2 linked regions of the Homo sapiens genome follow. The protein of the gene in region 1 purifies or fractionates together with the protein of each later gene. This does not show direct contact. Each region holds a gene or a part of one and is shown on either strand. Other genes may lie near its edges.

Region 1 (3,817 bases):
AAAATAAATAAATAAGGCCAGGCACAGCGGCTCACACCTGTAATCCTAGCACTTTGGGAGGCCGAGGAAGGAGGAGCACTTGAGCCCAGGAGTTCAAGACCAGCCTGGGCAACAAAGTGAGACCCTCTTTCTACAAAAAATTCTCTGGGTATAGGGCACAAGCCTGTAGTCCCAGCTACTCGGGAGGGTGAGCTGGGAGAATCGCTTGAGCCCCAGGAGGTCAAGGCTGCAGTGAGCCATGACTGTGCCACTGCACTCTAGCCTGGGCAACAGAGCGACACCTTGTCTCAAGAAAAAAAAACAAGAGGACTGACAATAGGGTGCAGTACTTCCTAGAGCTGTGAGAGGATTGAGTTACCAATGTAATTCGTATGTAAACTATTTGGCACATGGTCAGCGCTCAATAAATGGAAGCTACTATTATGAGGCTGTTATACTCCATAAGTCCTTATTTCTAAGTACTATTTAGAATTGCCTAACTACCTTCACAAGGAGCACCTCACTGGTTCCATAACACTCTCTGGGAGGGTGCAGGAATTCTCATTACCATCTCACAGATGAGGAAACTCAGGGTCAGAGTCACACCATAAGGAGCTATTTGAGCTAGAAGTCAAATCTAAACCTTCGGATCCCAGAGTCCACTTTCTCTTCTCCCAGGCTAGTCTCAGATACCTTTTCCAGTGCTAAGGTCTGACTCCAAAACAGGACGTAAAGGAGGCGTTTTGGCAACGAGAAGAAAGAGAGTTGGGGGGTGTTGGTGGGGGCTGGGGACCAGCAGCAAAGCTCAGAGCAGGCAATGGGAGTGTAACCAGCACATTGCAGCTCTGTACAGTTTTCTTGGCAGCCTCAGTCCCAGAACTTCTTACCTCCTTACCAAGCCCCACCTACAAGAAACTAGCATGTGGCATTAAGGTTAGACAATGGAAAGGACTTTTCACAGTAAGGAAAATGAGGAGGTTGAGACATCTCTTTCCCAAATGAGCCCCAAGGAAATGAATATCATCTGATGATGTCACTCCCCAGCTCAAAACTTTTCAGAGCCTCCCTGTTGCCCTCAGGGTTGAGCTGGCAGTCCTGAGCCCAGCCTGCAAGGCCCTACGGGATCTGGCCAGCCTGCCTCCCCCGCCCCATCTCCTCCACCCACCCCAGGTGCTCTGTTACTCAGGTGCTCAATAGGGTCTTGTGAGCTTCCCTGCTGGCCAGACTTTTGCACAAATGGTCCCCTCTACTTTGTTTATTTATTTGTTTATTTGTTTAGTTAGAGACAGAGTCTTGCTCTGTCATCCAGGCTGCAGTGCATTGGCTCGATCTCGGCTCACTGCAACCTCTGCCTCCCAGCTTCAAGCAATCCTCCTGCCCCAGTCTCCTGAGTAGCTGGAATTACAGGCACGTGCCATCATGCCAGCTAATTTTTATATTTTTAGTAGAGATGGGGTTTCACCATGTTCACCAGGCTGGTCTCGAACTCCTGACCTCAAGGGATCAGCCCACCTCAGACTCCCAAAGTGCTGGGATTACAGGTGTGAGCCATCACGCCCAGCTCATCCCCTCTAACTTAAATCTTCCTCTCTGCCTCCTCATCCCTACTCAACTTGCGCAGCTACCTCTTGCTTTTCCTTCTTATCTCCCTTTGCGTGTCCCTTCCTCCAGGAAGACCTCCCTAACCTCCCCACTGAACTAGAAAAGTGCACTGTCCCTTCCCTCCTCTCTCGTGACACTGCTTACAGTTGTTCACCCACTTACTTGTCTGTTTCACCAACCGGCCCAAGTGCAGGTGCTCAGACATCAGGCAGCCGAGGGCCCAGTCCTTCTCTACACTTGTTGGCAGTGTGACCCTTGGGCAAGTTACCTACCTCTCTGTGCCTCAGTTCTCTCCCTGTAAAATGGGATAATAATACCTACCTTATACAGTTGTTATAAGGATTTTTAAAGCCTTTATCTAAAAATACCAGAGCTTATGTGGATAATAATTACTCAGCAAACGTTAGGTAGTATTTACTTAATAAACACACCTGGGATGTAGTAGATGTTCAATAAACATCTACTGAAGTTATTTTATTTAATGATCACTTACATAATGCTTATTATGTGCCAGGCACTGTTCTAAGCACATTACAATGATTAACTTGTTTTATAGACGAGGGAACTGAGGCACAGAGAAGTCAATTAACTTGCCCAAGGTTATACAGCTAGTAGGTGGTGGAGCCAGGCTGCAAACTCAGGTGGTCTGGCTCCAGCATCCATGCTTTTAAATGAATGAATAACTTAGCCTTTGTACGGAGGGTGGGAGGCAGGGGCTTCACCTACAGAAATTACTCCGTTCCCACTCTTGGACTCTTTCAGATCCTGGGAGCTCCTGGTTAGCAAGTGAGATCTCTGGGATGTCAGTGAGGCTGGTTGAAGACCAGAGGTAAACTGCAGAGGTCACCACCCCCACCATGTCCCAGGTGATGTCCAGCCCACTGCTGGCAGGAGGCCATGCTGTCAGCTTGGCGCCTTGTGATGAGCCCAGGAGGACCCTGCACCCAGCACCCAGCCCCAGCCTGCCACCCCAGTGTTCTTACTACACCACGGAAGGCTGGGGAGCCCAGGCCCTGATGGCCCCCGTGCCCTGCATGGGGCCCCCTGGCCGACTCCAGCAAGCCCCACAGGTGGAGGCCAAAGCCACCTGCTTCCTGCCGTCCCCTGGTGAGAAGGCCTTGGGGACCCCAGAGGACCTTGACTCCTACATTGACTTCTCACTGGAGAGCCTCAATCAGATGATCCTGGAACTGGACCCCACCTTCCAGCTGCTTCCCCCAGGGACTGGGGGCTCCCAGGCTGAGCTGGCCCAGAGCACCATGTCAATGAGAAAGAAGGAGGAATCTGAAGCCTTGGGTAAGGATTTGGGGCACAGTACCAGGAGGGGGGCTTGGTGCCAGACCTCATGAGGAAGAAGGATTTTCCTATGTACAGAGAAGGGGACCCTGTCCTGTTGGGAGGTGCTGTGCAAACCTAACCAAGTTACTAACCCCTCTGTTTTCTGTGCTACACAAAGGGGATAAATACAAGCTTCCCTCACTAGCCAATTCTATTTGGTTCCTGAGTTTGGAAAGTGATAGATACTGATTTTCTATGATTTTATGAGGACTTAAATAAGCTCCTATGGAAAGTGTTTTGTGCAGTGCCGTGCCCATAAAGAAGAGCTCAATAAATGTGGATCCCTGACCCCCACTGTCCTAGGGTGTCTCACTTCAGAGCCTAACCTGGGCCCCCCTGAAATTTTGGTAGGATTGCTATTGGGACCTCTGTCCTTGTTTAGGGGAGTATCTTTCTGGAGAGGCCCACGCTGGAAATGGTAGGATTGGGGCATCTGTTTAGGATAAGGACCCGGTAGTGTTCAAGCAGTGGTATGCTGGTGAATGTTTACCTGGCTCTCTGGTTGGGGAGCAGGGGCAGAGGGAGCTGATTTGAAGCTTCTGCCCATTTCCACAGTATGAATTCTCCCACTGTGGCCAATTTCAAACTACCAACATGATGTCACTGAATGAGGAGCTGGAGACATGTGGAGTAGCAGGCTGTCACACAGCATTGCCACCACACCAACACAATAGATGTAAATAACCCTGAGAGCACAGATAATAGTATGGAGGGTGGGGAGACACTGTCGTAAAATAATTGGGACGTGACGAATTTTAAGTATTTATTACCTTTGTTTTTAATGTAAGTTATTTCATTGTAAGTGTACATAATGTAATTATTCATAATGGCTGGGTTTAGTAACTAGCTAGACAAAATCCTGAAAATTTAACAATCAGCTCTTAACCAGCTGATACAA
Region 2 (3,337 bases), on another chromosome or scaffold:
GCCTTGAGCCCATCTCTCTAGCCCTCTGCACCTTATTTCCCATCTGTGAAATGCCCTTAAACACCCCTTCTAATTTTAATATTCTGAGTCAAATTGAGCTCAGGTCCAAATGCCAAATATTGCTGATATTCATCCACTTTTTGACCCACAAAAGTGGTCATTTTAACCTACAATAAAACATCCTGGCTCAGTGGCTCATACCTGTAATCCCAGCACTTTGGGAGGCCCAGTTGGGGGGATTACTTAAGTCCAGGAGTCTGAGACCAGCCTGGGCCATATAGCAAGATTCTGTCTCTACAAAAAATTAAAAAATTAGCCATGCTTGTGGGCAAGCCCCTGTAGTCCCAGCCACTTGGGAGGCTGAGGTGGGAGGATCACTTGATCCCAGGAGGTGGAGGCTGCAGTGAACTATGACTGCACTGAACTCCAGCCTGGGCGACAGAGCGGGACCCTGACTCAAAAACAAAACAGTGGCCAGGTGCGGTGGCTCACGCCTGTAATCCCAGCACTTTGGGAGGCTGAGATGGGTGGATCACGAGGTCATGAGTTAGAGACCATCCTGGCCACCATGGTGAAACGTCGTCTCTATTAAAAATACAAAAATTAGCTGGGCATGGTGGCACGCACCTGTAGTCCCAGCTACTCGGGAGACTGAGGTGGGAGAATCACTTGATCCCAGGAGGTAGAGGCTGCAGTGAGCTATCATTGCACCACTGCACTCCAGCCTGGGCGACAGGTTGAGACCCTGTCTCAAAAACAAAACAAAGCAAAAACAACCCCAAAGTCTGGTTTCCTTATTAACCCCAAGTTCATGGTCCACCCGAAGCTTTTCAAATGTCAGTCCCGGCTCCCCGCGCCCCAGCTGCAGTGCTGGGCCCTATCGTCACCCTCGCCCTCCCGGCTCCCTGCGCCCCAGTGCCAGGTGCTGGGCCCAGTCCTCACCCTTGTCCTCCCGGCTGCCCAGCAGGCGGTGCGGGCGGCCAGACAGGCGGCTGACTTCACTCTGAAGGTGGAAGTGGAATGCAGCAGCCTGCAGGAGGCCGTGCAGGCAGCTGAGGCTGGTGCCGACCTTGTCCTGCTGGACAACTTCAAGCCAGAGGTAAGGTGGGCTCTGCCTCCGGGGAGGGATCTGTGGTGGGCTCTTACCTCCCCTTGGCTTGTGTCCCGCAGGAGCTGCACCCCACGGCCACCGTGCTGAAGGCCCAGTTCCCGAGTGTGGCTGTGGAAGCCAGTGGGGGCATCACCCTGGACAACCTCCCCCAGTTCTGCGGGCCGCACATAGACGTCATCTCCATGGGGATGCTGACCCAGGCGGCCCCAGCCCTTGATTTCTCCCTCAAGCTGTTTGCCAAAGAGGTGGCTCCAGTGCCCAAAATCCACTAGTCCTAAACCGGAAGAGGATGACACCGGCCATGGGTTAACGTGGCTCCTCAGGACCCTCTGGGTCACACATCTTTAGGGTCAGTGGCCAATGGGGCACATTTGGCACTAGCTTGAGCCCAACTCTGGCTCTGCCACCTGCTGCTCCTGTGACCTGTCAGGGCTGACTTCACCTCTGCTCATCTCAGTTTCCTAATCTGTAAAATGGGTCTAATAAAGGATCAACCACATGGGGTTCTGCGGTGATAATGAGCACATAGTGAGGGGTCAGCAAATGTCAGAAGTTACCTGGGACAGCCGGGCACGATGGCTCACACCTGTAATCCCAGCACTTTGGGAGGCTGAGGCGGGAAGATCACTTGAGTTCAGGAGTTTGAGACCAGCCTGGCCAACATGGTGAAACCCCATCTCTACCAAAAATAGAAGAATTAGCTGGGTGTGGTGGCACGCGCCTGTAATCCCAGCTACTTAGGAGGCTGAGGCAGGAGAATCGCTTGAACCCAGGAAGTGGAGGTTGCAGTGAGCTGATGGTGCCACTGCACTCCAGCCTGGGTGATAGAGCGAGACTCTGTCTCCAAAGAAGAAACAAAGGAAAGAAAGAGAGAAAGAGAGAGGGAGGGAGGGAGGGAGGGAAAGGAAGGATGGAAAGAAAGGAAGAAAGGCAGGCAAAAGCCCCAGACAGGCCAAAACCTTCATCCTTCATGCACCCAACCTGTACCAAACACCAGCATGGCCTGGCTGTGAGTGCACAGCAGATGGAGGTTTGCTGGGCAGAGACACTGGGCTGGCCTAGACACTGCCTTTGGTGATACCCTAAACCAAAGGGGCCAGTCCCACAGTAAGAAGGAGACCACTACTACTCCTGCTGCCCTCCTCCCCCCACCTTGCCTAGTTTACAAGACAGGAGGAAAGAGAGAAAGCAAAAAGTTAGAAAACAAAACAAAACAGAAGTAAGATAAATAGCCAGAAGACCTTGGCGACACCACCCGGCCCTGGTAGTTAAAAAAAAGTAACAATAATAATAATATCAACCCCTGACCTAAACTACTTGTGTTATCTGTAAATTCCAGACATTGTATGAAAAAGCATTGCAAAACTTTCTGCTCTGTTAGCTGATGCGTGTAGCCCCCAGTCACGTTCCCCGCTTGCTTGAGATATCATGACCCTTTCACGTGGACCCCTTAGAGTTGTAAGCCTTTAAAAAGGCCAAGAATTTCTTTTTCAGGGATCTCAGCTATTAAGATGCAAGTCTGCCAATGCTCCTGGCCAAATAAACCTCTTCCTTCTTTAATCCGGTGCCTGAGGAGTTTTGTCTGTGGCTCGTCCTGCTACAAGAGGACACAGCCCAGAGGTGCCACCTGCAGCTGCCCTGTCCCCTCTAATCCCAGCTCCACCCTGCCTGCTCCCGTCCTTCCTCCAGGGGGAACATGGACACGCTCAGATGAACCCCAGCTTCTTATGCCTGAACTGGGGAAACTGAAGCCCCATGGGACCAGGGGTTCCACTGGGCATCAAGGGAGGAAAGTTGAGCCCCGGGGTGATCTGGGAACTGGGATCTGGGATCTGGGCAGGCATTGGGGCCTGACAGAGCAGAAGTGAGGAGAGGGTACCAGGAGCTGCAAACTCGGTGCCTCCAGGACCTATTCGGATAAAATAAATGGGTGGAACTGGAATAAGACAAAGTGGGGGTGCGCTGTGGCCAACTGGAAAATGCTCGTTGCAGCCACAGCGTTCCATTAAAAAAGCGAAAGGAACCTGCCTGCCTGAGTCTTAAGCTCCCCCTAAACCCAGAAATGGGTTAGCCCTCCAGTATCCTCCAGCTCTGAGAGCTGGGGCGGGCACTCCATTACTGGGGGAACAGGAAATGGATCCTGGGCACTCTAGGGCAACACACGCCCTCCTTGCAGGGAAATGGATTTCCAGGCAGGGGAGATGCATGGGCAGAGGTGGCTTGGAT

The links.
Region 2: the proteins of TNS4 (region 1) and QPRT purify together in Homo sapiens (affinity purification with mass spectrometry; one large-scale study listed by BioGRID and IntAct). This does not show direct contact.

What each region holds. Positions count from the first base shown.
Region 1 is NC_000017.11:40,495,047-40,498,863, reverse strand, and holds part of TNS4 (tensin-4 precursor), read left to right. Parts: intron 1-2,343; 5' UTR 2,344-2,438; coding exon 2,439-2,877; intron 2,878-3,817. UniProt on the Homo sapiens protein: Promotes EGF-induced cell migration by displacing tensin TNS3 from the cytoplasmic tail of integrin ITGB1 which results in dissociation of TNS3 from focal adhesions, disassembly of actin stress fibers and initiation of cell migration.
Region 2 is NC_000016.10:29,696,029-29,699,365, forward strand, and holds the end of QPRT (nicotinate-nucleotide pyrophosphorylase [carboxylating]), read left to right. Parts: intron 1-964; coding exon of another isoform or gene 965-967; coding exon 968-1,099; intron 1,100-1,170; coding exon 1,171-1,383; 3' UTR 1,384-2,671; downstream 2,672-3,337. UniProt on the Homo sapiens protein: Involved in the catabolism of quinolinic acid (QA).